Regions from separate parts of the Homo sapiens genome. Here region 2 is linked to region 1. The links come from fine-mapping of genetic effects on gene expression. A gene starts in region 1. The other region holds a variant in brackets. All regions are shown on one strand. Distances are from middle to middle.

Evidence for each region. PIP is the estimated chance that this variant, and not a neighbour inherited with it, causes the effect.
Region 2: its variant is fine-mapped to the expression of SLC9A3-AS1 in whole blood (INTERVAL, PIP above 0.99).

Annotation. Positions count from the first base shown.
Region 1 is chr5:471,001-475,250 of GRCh38, reverse strand. SLC9A3-AS1 (SLC9A3 antisense RNA 1) reads right to left here and starts at 2,015. Exons shown (of 7, transcript NR_125375.1): 1 at 1,852-2,015; 2 at 1-114. It overlaps SLC9A3 (solute carrier family 9 member A3), which reads left to right. Exons shown (of 17, transcript NM_004174.4): 16 at 119-368; 17 at 1,869-4,250. The coding sequence ends at 1,872. It overlaps SLC9A3-OT1 (SLC9A3 3' UTR overlapping transcript 1), which reads left to right and starts at 2,286. Exons shown (of 2, transcript NR_024158.1): 1 at 2,286-2,572; 2 at 3,286-4,250. RefSeq lists enhancers at 1-123, 2,051-2,691, 2,692-3,334 and silencers at 1,308-2,127, 2,248-2,317, 2,678-2,807.
Region 2 is chr5:499,875-504,366 of GRCh38, reverse strand. All of the region lies in intron 1 of SLC9A3 (solute carrier family 9 member A3), which reads left to right. Among named protein-coding and RNA genes, the nearest start is that of SLC9A3, 22 kb to the left of the region's middle. The variant T/G (reference allele first, on the strand shown) is at 1,948.

The DNA.
Region 1 (4,250 bases):
CTAACCTTCCCGGTGACCCTAACTTTCCAAGGCACCCAGCAGGTGACGGCCCCGGCGAGGTCTCCCCTGCCGCCGTGGGGCTCTCCGAAGGCTGACTAGCCGCTGCCCTCTCTCCTAGGAATTGACAACCCTGTGTTTTCTCCGGACGAGGCCCTGGACCGCAGCCTCCTGGCCAGGCTGCCGCCCTGGCTGTCTCCCGGGGAGACGGTGGTCCCCTCGCAGAGGGCCCGCACGCAGATTCCCTACTCTCCCGGCACCTTCTGCCGCCTGATGCCCTTCCGCCTCAGCAGCAAGTCCGTGGACTCCTTCCTGCAGGCAGACGGCCCCGAGGAGCGGCCCCCCGCCGCCCTCCCCGAGTCCACACACATGTAACGCTCCCGGGCCTCCCGCCGCCTAACCCCTCTCCGCAGCTCCTCTCCCTCCAGGTCTCCGCCTCGCGCGCGCTGTCTCTCTCCCTCCCCGCCTAACCCCTCTCCGCAGCTCCTCTCCCTCCAGGTCTCCGCCTCGCGCGCGCTGTCTCTCTCCTCCCTGGACCTGAACCTGGCTCGCTCTCTCTCTCCCCGCCTAACCCCTCTCCGCAGCTCCTCTCCCTCCAGGTCTCCGCCTCGCGCGCGCTGTCTCTCTCCTCCCTGGACCTGAACCTGGCTCTCTCCCTCCCCGCCTAACCCCTCTCCGCAGCTCCTCTCCCTCCAGGTCTCCGCCTCGCGCGCGCTGTCTCTCTCCTCCCTGGACCTGAACCTGGCTCGCTCTCTCTCTCTCCCCGCCTAACCCCTCTCCGCAGCTCCTCTCCTCCAGGTCTCCGCCTCGCGCGCGCTGTCTCTCTCCTCCCTGGACCTGAACCTGGTTCTCTCTCTCCCTCCCCGCCTAACCCCTCTCCGCAGCTCCTCTCCCTCCAGGTCTCCGCCTCGCGCGCGCTGTCTCTCTCCTCCCTGGACCTGAACCTGGCTCGCTCTCTCTCTCTCCCCGCCTAACCCCTCTCCGCAGCTCCTCTCCTCCAGGTCTCCGCCTCGCGCGCGCTGTCTCTCTCCTCCCTGGACCGGAACCTGGTTCTCTCTCTCCCTCCCCGCCTAACCCCTCTCCGCAGCTCCTCTCCCTCCAGGTCTCCGCCTCGCGCGCTCGCTCTCTCTCCTCCCTGGACCTGAACCTGGCGCGCTCTCTCTCTCCAGCAGCCCCTCTTCCTCCTCTAGCGCCCTGCTGGCCGCACCTCCCTCAGGAGCCCGGACAGAGATACTCTGGCGTCTCTGCTGCTCCCACGGAGCTGAGGGCACTAGGGCCGCCTGAGATTTCCTTTAGGTGGCTCCGAAAGCTAGTCCGCGAGTCCAAATCCTGCGCTCCCAGGGAGCTGAGAGCAGGGCTGGGGGAAGCCAGACAGACGCCCCGGGTCCCCGACCCTCTCACAGGGATACAGGGAGGGCCGGCCCCGCAGACCCGGACTCTGCCTCCAGCTCAGAGCAGGGAGAGGGGCGGGCCGTGGGGTCTGGGCTTTCTGAGCTCCCTCTGGGGGCCTGGGAGGCACCCGGGGGACGCCAGGGCGGTTTGAGATGGAGGAAGCAGGTCCCCTTGGGGACCTTGACCTCCCGCGCTGCAGGGCCTGGGGCGGGACCTTCCTGCGCCGAGGAGGCCGCTGTCCCGGGACCCCCGGCGGGGGGACGTGGCGGGGCCGGGCTGGGGCTTCGCTGTTGCTGCTTCCGCCTCTGCCCCGCGAACCCGGGTCCTGGGAGGAGGCCCCAGCGGACGCCGAGCCTGGGGTGCGCCGCGGGAGGGGAGGCGAGAGCCGCCGGGCTCGGGGACAGCTGAGGCCCCCGGGGACGCCCCTCCCGCCCCAGCGCCCGGGCTCCGCGCGCCGCTCACGCCTTCCTCTCCCGCAGGTGACACCGGCTCCGACACGCCGCTAACCGGCCGCTCGTCCCCGCGCCACGGTCCGCCCACCGCCGCCGCCGCTGTCCCAGAGAAACCCCAGATCCCCGCGCGGCTACAGCGACCGCGAGCCCCGAGCCCCGCCTCGCCCACGCCAGCGCCTGCGCAGAACTCCGAGAGTGCCGCGCCTGCGCCCGCAGAGCCGCCCGAGGGCGAGCCGGGGGCGGGGCCTGCGCCGGGGGCGGGGCCGGAGCGCCGAGGGCTGCCGAGTGCGCACGCGCGTTCGGCGGCGGCGCGCCGCGTGCACAGCCGGCGCTCGTTCCAGCGGCCTCGCGCGCGCCGCCGCCCCGCGCTGCTGAAGCTGGCGTCGCTGCCGCCCTCGTGCCACGCACCGCCGCACGCGCTGGAGCAGGAGGAGACGCCGCTGTGACGCCGCCGGCGGGAAGGGTCCGCGCGCCATGGCTGGCCGCTCGCGCCCTTTCCCACCGCTGCCGGGAAACCGAGGCTCGCCCCAAACGGATTTGCGTGAAACCAGCCCAAGGTTCCGGGCCCCCCCAACCGAGCCCCGCGCCCGGGGACTGACTCGGGGACCGACTCAGGGACCTCCCGAGCGCCAGGACTCAGGGCCCGACCTGCAGCGGCTGCAGGCCCAGCGCCCGCAAGCGGCCTGGGCCGAGCGCCGTTTCCAGGCCCTCGCCAGGTCTTTGAACTGCAGGTAAAGTGGCAGGAACGTCTTCCGTCTGCTCAGCGTTTGGGGATTTAGACTCCTAAAGCCAGTACCTGCCCCGTTTCCCCCCCAGGTTCCGTCCTGCCCGCGCCCGGTCTCAGGGTGGCGGCCCCGGACACGGCCCGTCCCCACAGACGAGGTCTCCGGCCTGAGCTGTCGCACCTGGCGCGGAGGTCGCCCGGGGTGCCCTGGCTGGGTGAGAGGTGGCCTGGCGGGCGGAGCTTGCCAAGAATCACGGCCAGTCCTTAAGTGGATGGTGGGGCCCAGCAGCTGCTCTGTCCCCCTTAACAAACCAGGGGGCATGGAGGGGCCCAGGGCACCGCCCCCCTACCAGGCTCAGGCCCTCCAAGGAGAACCTGCTGAGACCCCTGAGCCTGTCCTAGACCCCGGACCCCTGACCCTTCCCACCCCTTCCAGCGTCCCAGGGCGAGGCCTTGGACAGAGCTCCTGGTCCTCTGCAGGGAGACCATCCAGCCCAAGCTCTGGGAGGCACAGTCCATTGAGTGGGCGGAGGCCGCGGGTGCTGAGCCGGGGAGGGTGCTCGGAGTCCATCCATCCCTCAGACGGCAAGTCCCACAGGGTCCAACCCACCTGAAACCTGCCTGCACGGTGGAAGTGGTGGAGGTGGACACTCCTAGGGGCTTTTCTAAAGCTAGACTCGCAGCTCCTTGCTCAGGAAAATTAAACTATTCACGTTTCAGATCAAGTGTTGACAGTCACCAGTCAGGAGGAGTTCTTAAAGAGTTTTATGTTGACTGAATATTGCACATTGAGTCCCCATTGAGTCCCTGGTGGGAAAAGTCCACAATTTCCCATTGATAGCTTTTTACTGTTGTGAAAAAGGGAAGCGTCAGCCACACAAAAGCCTGCATGACCGCTGCTTCGGAGAAGCTCTCGACCCTAACTGCAGTCACTGTTACTTGGATCAGATCAAGCGCAGTGACTTTTTGGGATTCAGTGGTTATTCTCCACACTTCGTAGCCATTTCAACCAACTCTGAGCACAAAATGCAGCCATCCTCTATGCAGCAAGCCCTGCCCAGTCAGTGACCCTACTGGACAGATCCAAGGCCAGCCCTGGTTCCCTGCTGCAGCCACCGTCCTGACGTTCATCGGAGCAGGCCGGGGCCTGGCCTTCCCGGCACAAGTGGCTGTTCTGACAGGCCCCCAGTTTGTCCCATCTGAACTGCTGGGAGGTTTCCGGGTGGCCAGAGGAGCAAAGCTGCCTTCCAAGTGCCTGTCTGTGCCTGGGAGAACAGAGCAGGAGCGTCGTGCGGTCCACCGCGCAATGCATGGCGATTCCAGGCGCTGAACAACTCCCCTGGACCCTTGGGCCTGCATCTGACTCCCAGCTGCAGAGTCAGAAGCTGAGTCCAGGCAACTGCTTGGCCACTCCCGATCGCTCCTCCCTGGACACCCGGTTACCAAAGTCAGCAAAGAAGATGCGGTAATCGCCGCCTGATCTCCACATGGTGAACACAACACTCCCACCAACACCTCCTTGACTGGTCGGTCTTCAGCACCGGGGGTGGGCAGGCAGGTGTTCTGTGTTGACGAGAATTGCACAGGCTAAACACAAACACGGAACCAGAGTGAGAACACCTCACTCACGGCAGCCCAGGCTGCTCCCTACCAGGTGACGGAGCGCGCCGGGGCTGTGGGTGCCA
Region 2 (4,492 bases), 29 kb before region 1:
GGCTATTTCCTCACTTTACAGAGGGGAGCCTGAAGCAAGGAGGGCAGGTCACACCTCCTGGGTGGGTCACGGGACGCGGGGGCTGCAAGAACACGGGGAGACGTGTGCCCCTTGGGTTCCCGGGGGTTCCGGAGCTGGCGGCAGCCCCACAGCGATGCCTTCCGGCACCTTCCCTCCCCAGGCGCCTCATATAGGACGCTGTCTCCTTGCTGGAAGCTTCTGCAGAAGCTTGTTCCCTTCCCTTGTTTAGTTGTTGATAAACCAAAGGCAAAAACACGGGGAATGCTAAACTTCCGTGATTGATGAAGACGGTTTCATAATTTCTACTTTGAAGTGAATGATTTTATAAGGGCAAGAGAGAAGAGAGGGTGAAGTGTGAGGAAGGTGGGGGTGGGTGGGACCCTGAGAATCCAGGCACCGGGTGAAGATGGGAACCCCCCAAGAGCTCTGGGGGCCCAGTCTTCTGTCCAGAGGCCCCAGCCTCGCGCAGACGATTCGCCGATTCAGGAGAAACCACAGCCGTGGATGAGATTTCCAGCAGACACGCCTTCCTTGCCCATTTCATGGAACAAGAAGAAAGTTCTTTATTGGTAACTCACACACATTATACAGATGGAAAGATTCTCCATTTGTTTTTGATTTTCAGCAGTCTGACTGTGCCGTGCCCACAGGCAGGATTTTCCCTGTACTTGCATTGCTTGGAGCTTGCAAAATTTCTCAAATCTATAAATGTGTGTCTTTCACCAAACTGGGGACATTTTTTACCATTCGCTCTTCAAGGTTTCCCCGCCCCATTCTCCCTTCCTTCCAGAGCTCCAGCTACACATATATCAGGCCTTTTTCTGGGCAAGGATGGGGGCCTCGCTCACTGTCACCCAGACTGGGGTGCAGCCTCAACCCGCCCAGGCTCAATGGACCCTCTGGCCTCAGCCCCCTGAGTAGCTGGGACTATGGGCACAAACCACCAGGCTCAGCTAATGTTTTAATTTATTTTGTCGAGAAGGGGTTTTGCTGTGTTGCCCAGGCTGGTCTTGAACTCCTGGGTTCAAGCGATCCTCCTGCCTTGGCCTCCCAAAGTGCTGCGGCTACAAGCTATTGATTTTGCCCCACAGGCCACTGAGGCTCTGGTTACTTTAAAAACCATTTTTTCTCCTTGGTCTTCCGATGGGATGATTTCTTCTGATCTGTCTTCCAGTTCACTCTCTTTACTGTCATTTCTGTCTGCTCGTAAGTCTATCCATTGAGTTTTTATGTCAGAGATTCTAGGGTTTCTGCTTGGTTCTCTTTGATAAGTTCTATTTTAGGCATCAGCAAACTACAGCCCGTGGGCCGGCCACTGGTTGTTGTAAATAAAGTTTCACTGGAACGCCCATCTGTGTCGTTACAGCGGCTTTCGGCCTCAGTGGTAGTGAGTGGTAAAGTTTCACTGGAACACAGCGCCCATCTGTGTCGTTACGGCGGCTTTCGGCCTCACTGGTAGTGAGTGGTAAAGTTTCACTGGAACACAGCGCCCATCTGTGTCATTACGGCGGCTTTCGGCGCCCGTCTGTGTCGTTACAGCGGCTTTCGGCCTCACTGGTAGTGAGTGGTTATGAAGTGATCCTCCTGTTGGCAGCTTGCAGGACCTAAAATACTCACAATCTGCCTTTAAGAAAAAATGTGCCAAGCCCTGTTCCACTCCACCGCTGCGGCTTGTCCTTTTTAAGTGGTTATGAGAACGTTTCTTTTCTATCCTTGAGCTGCTGTTTTAGGCCCTTGTCTGCTGATTCCAGGGTCTGACCATCTTGCGTTCTCCTCTGATTTGAGCTGGGCCACATTCCCACTTCACGTGTCTCGTGACTTCCGTTGCCCCAGGACGTTGCGACCGGTGTCTTGCCGGGGACTGTGCTCCGCTGCGGCCCCTGGTAGGCGCCGCTGGGTCTGCGGTAGCTGAAGCTTGTTGCTGCT[T/G]TGAGCAAAGCCCTGAGGTGGTGGCAGCTGGGATCTGCATCCAGGTCTTTCCTCTGCTGTGGGCAGCTTGGGACCTGCCTGTGTCTGTCTGTTCTCACGCTGCTAATAAGGGGGCCTGGGCCGTCTCTGGGGGTGGGGGGCCGGAGCGGCTGGGTCCCAGAGAGGAAGGGGTGTGGGGTCTGCCCAGCGTCCTGGACAGAGGCCGTGGCTGGCTCAGAGGCTGCGTTCATTTTGCCCCAGCGCGGTTGCTCAGGGTGGTTTGGAGTCGAAGGATCTCCTGATTCTCTAGGGAACCGTGGGCAACATTCATGTTTCAATTTAAAAACCGACCAGGTTTGCTCGAGTGTTGTAAATGTACAATGTGTAAAACGCCTTGTGACTTGAGCGCAGGGAGTCCAGTCCTGAACGGGCTGTTGTTCTTGGAGCTGTGTGAACTTCATCTGGCAGGAAGCAGCTTCCCGGCCCGGGGGCCCGGCCTCGCTCGGAGAGGGGCTTCCTGCGTGGCCCCCGGGAGCCGGCTCCCCTGTCCCACGCCAACCTGAGTACTCACGGGGAACTGCACCCGCAGGCAGGGACGCGTGGGGTCACGCAGGCACGTCTGCCAGGCCGCACGGCGGACCTCCGTGAGCACCTTTACCTCCGCCCTGGGCTTGACGGCCGACACATTTACCGTGATTCCTCGCCGGTGCCCCACAGGCGGGTAAAGTGATACTGAGGTCAGAGTGTGCTGGCGAGCTCTGCTGGACCTGCAGGGGCGGGTGGCAGAGAACTCAGACCCACAGCTGTGCTAGGAGAACAGGGTGGACCCTGTGCGTGTCTCCTCTGTGTGTCTCTGCACGTCTCTGCGTCTCTGCGAGTCTCTGTGTGCGTGCACGTGTTCCTGCATGTGTCTGCGCCTGCCTGTGGAATGCCCCGGCCCCTCGTCCCCCGGGAGGGTGGGTACCTGTGCTTCCGCCCTCCTTCCTGGCCTCACCGCCCCACCGCTCAGCCAGGCTGTTTCTGGGAGGCAGAGTTTAATCCTCCGGGACGTGTTCCTGTTAAAGTAAAACCACAGGATTGACTGCGCTGTTGCATTTTTGTGGACTCGGCTGAATCTCTGCCACCTTGAAAGGTCCTTGGAGGTGGCGGAGGCCCTGGGCCTGACCAAGCCCCGTCCCTCTGTGCTCCGAGGGGTGTGACATGCATTGGGCCGTGGCCTTCCTGAGCCCCCCGGGGCCCAGAGAGAAGCCCTTTCCGGCGCCCATCCGGAAATGTCTGGTTTGCCAGCGCCGGCCCTTCCTCCTCCAGGCACAGGGTTTGTAATTAGAACTAAAAGCGTCTGTCCCCTGTCGTAACCATCAGGCCACCAAGCCATTGTGTGCTTAATTAGCTGTGACTCTCCAGCCTCGGCAATCAGTTACCTGAGGGCCTGCGTGTCCCCAGGTTTGTCCCCTTGTGTGGAAGCCACACGGGCTGTGGCAGGCGGACTCAGGGCCTGGCCCTGTCCACACCGGCCCGTGTCCACACCAGCCTCGTCCACACCGACCCCATGTCCACACTGACTCTGTGTCCACACTGGCCCCATCCACACCAGCCCCGTCCACACCCACCAGCCCCATCCACGCCTGCCCCATCCACACCAGCCCCTTCCACACTGACCCCATGTCCACACTGGCCCTGTGTCCACACTGACCCCGTCCACACCAGCCCCGTCCACACCCACCAGCCCCATCCACACTGGCCCCATCCACACGGCCCCATCCACACCAGCCCCATCCATACTAGCCCCATGTCCACACCAGCCCCATCCACGCCTGCCCCATCCACACCGGCCCCTTCCACACTGACCCCATGTCCACACCGGCCCTGTGTCCACACTGACCCATCCACACCAGCCCCTCCCACACCAGCCCCGTCCACACTGGCCCCATCTACACTGGCCCCGTGTCCACACCGGCCCCCTGTCCACACCGGCCCGCCTGGCCTCTCCGTGCTTGGTGTGTGTTTCCTGTGTCCCTGGAGGGTCCCGTCCCCGTCTCCTGCCACCCCCCCTTCCATTCTCGCCAGGGATCCACGCCAGTCGCATGCCGTGTGTGCACCTAGCTGGGGGAGCCTCGTGGCGTGTCCCAGTGGTGCCGGAAGCCGGTTCCGTCTGTGGAGCTTCTCGTGGTTTGGCTTCTGCAGTTGTGTGGCTGAGCCCAGGCTCTGCATAGTGCGTCTCGGGAGGGTCCCACACCGCCTGGTTCCCTCACAGTGTGTGCCATGGGGCGAGTTCTATTCTCTTCATTTCCTTAAGGCCTCAGACACCCTCTGCCCTTTCAACCCACAGGGCCGGGGTTGCCGCAGTCAGTGCGGTGGACCTGAGGCTCTTCTGGTAGAAGGTTGAAGATGTCGCTGCCTGTTGCGTCCCAGCCACCCTGCAGCTCCTGCCCAACAGCTCTGGGCCGAGGAGGCTGTGCCCTGCGCCTGTGGTGGCTCCGACGGGGCCCAGGGCTGTGGGTTCCTTCTTCTTTGAGGTGCAGTGGCCCCTCCACACTCCCATGGTATCTCTGTAGCCATGCTGGCT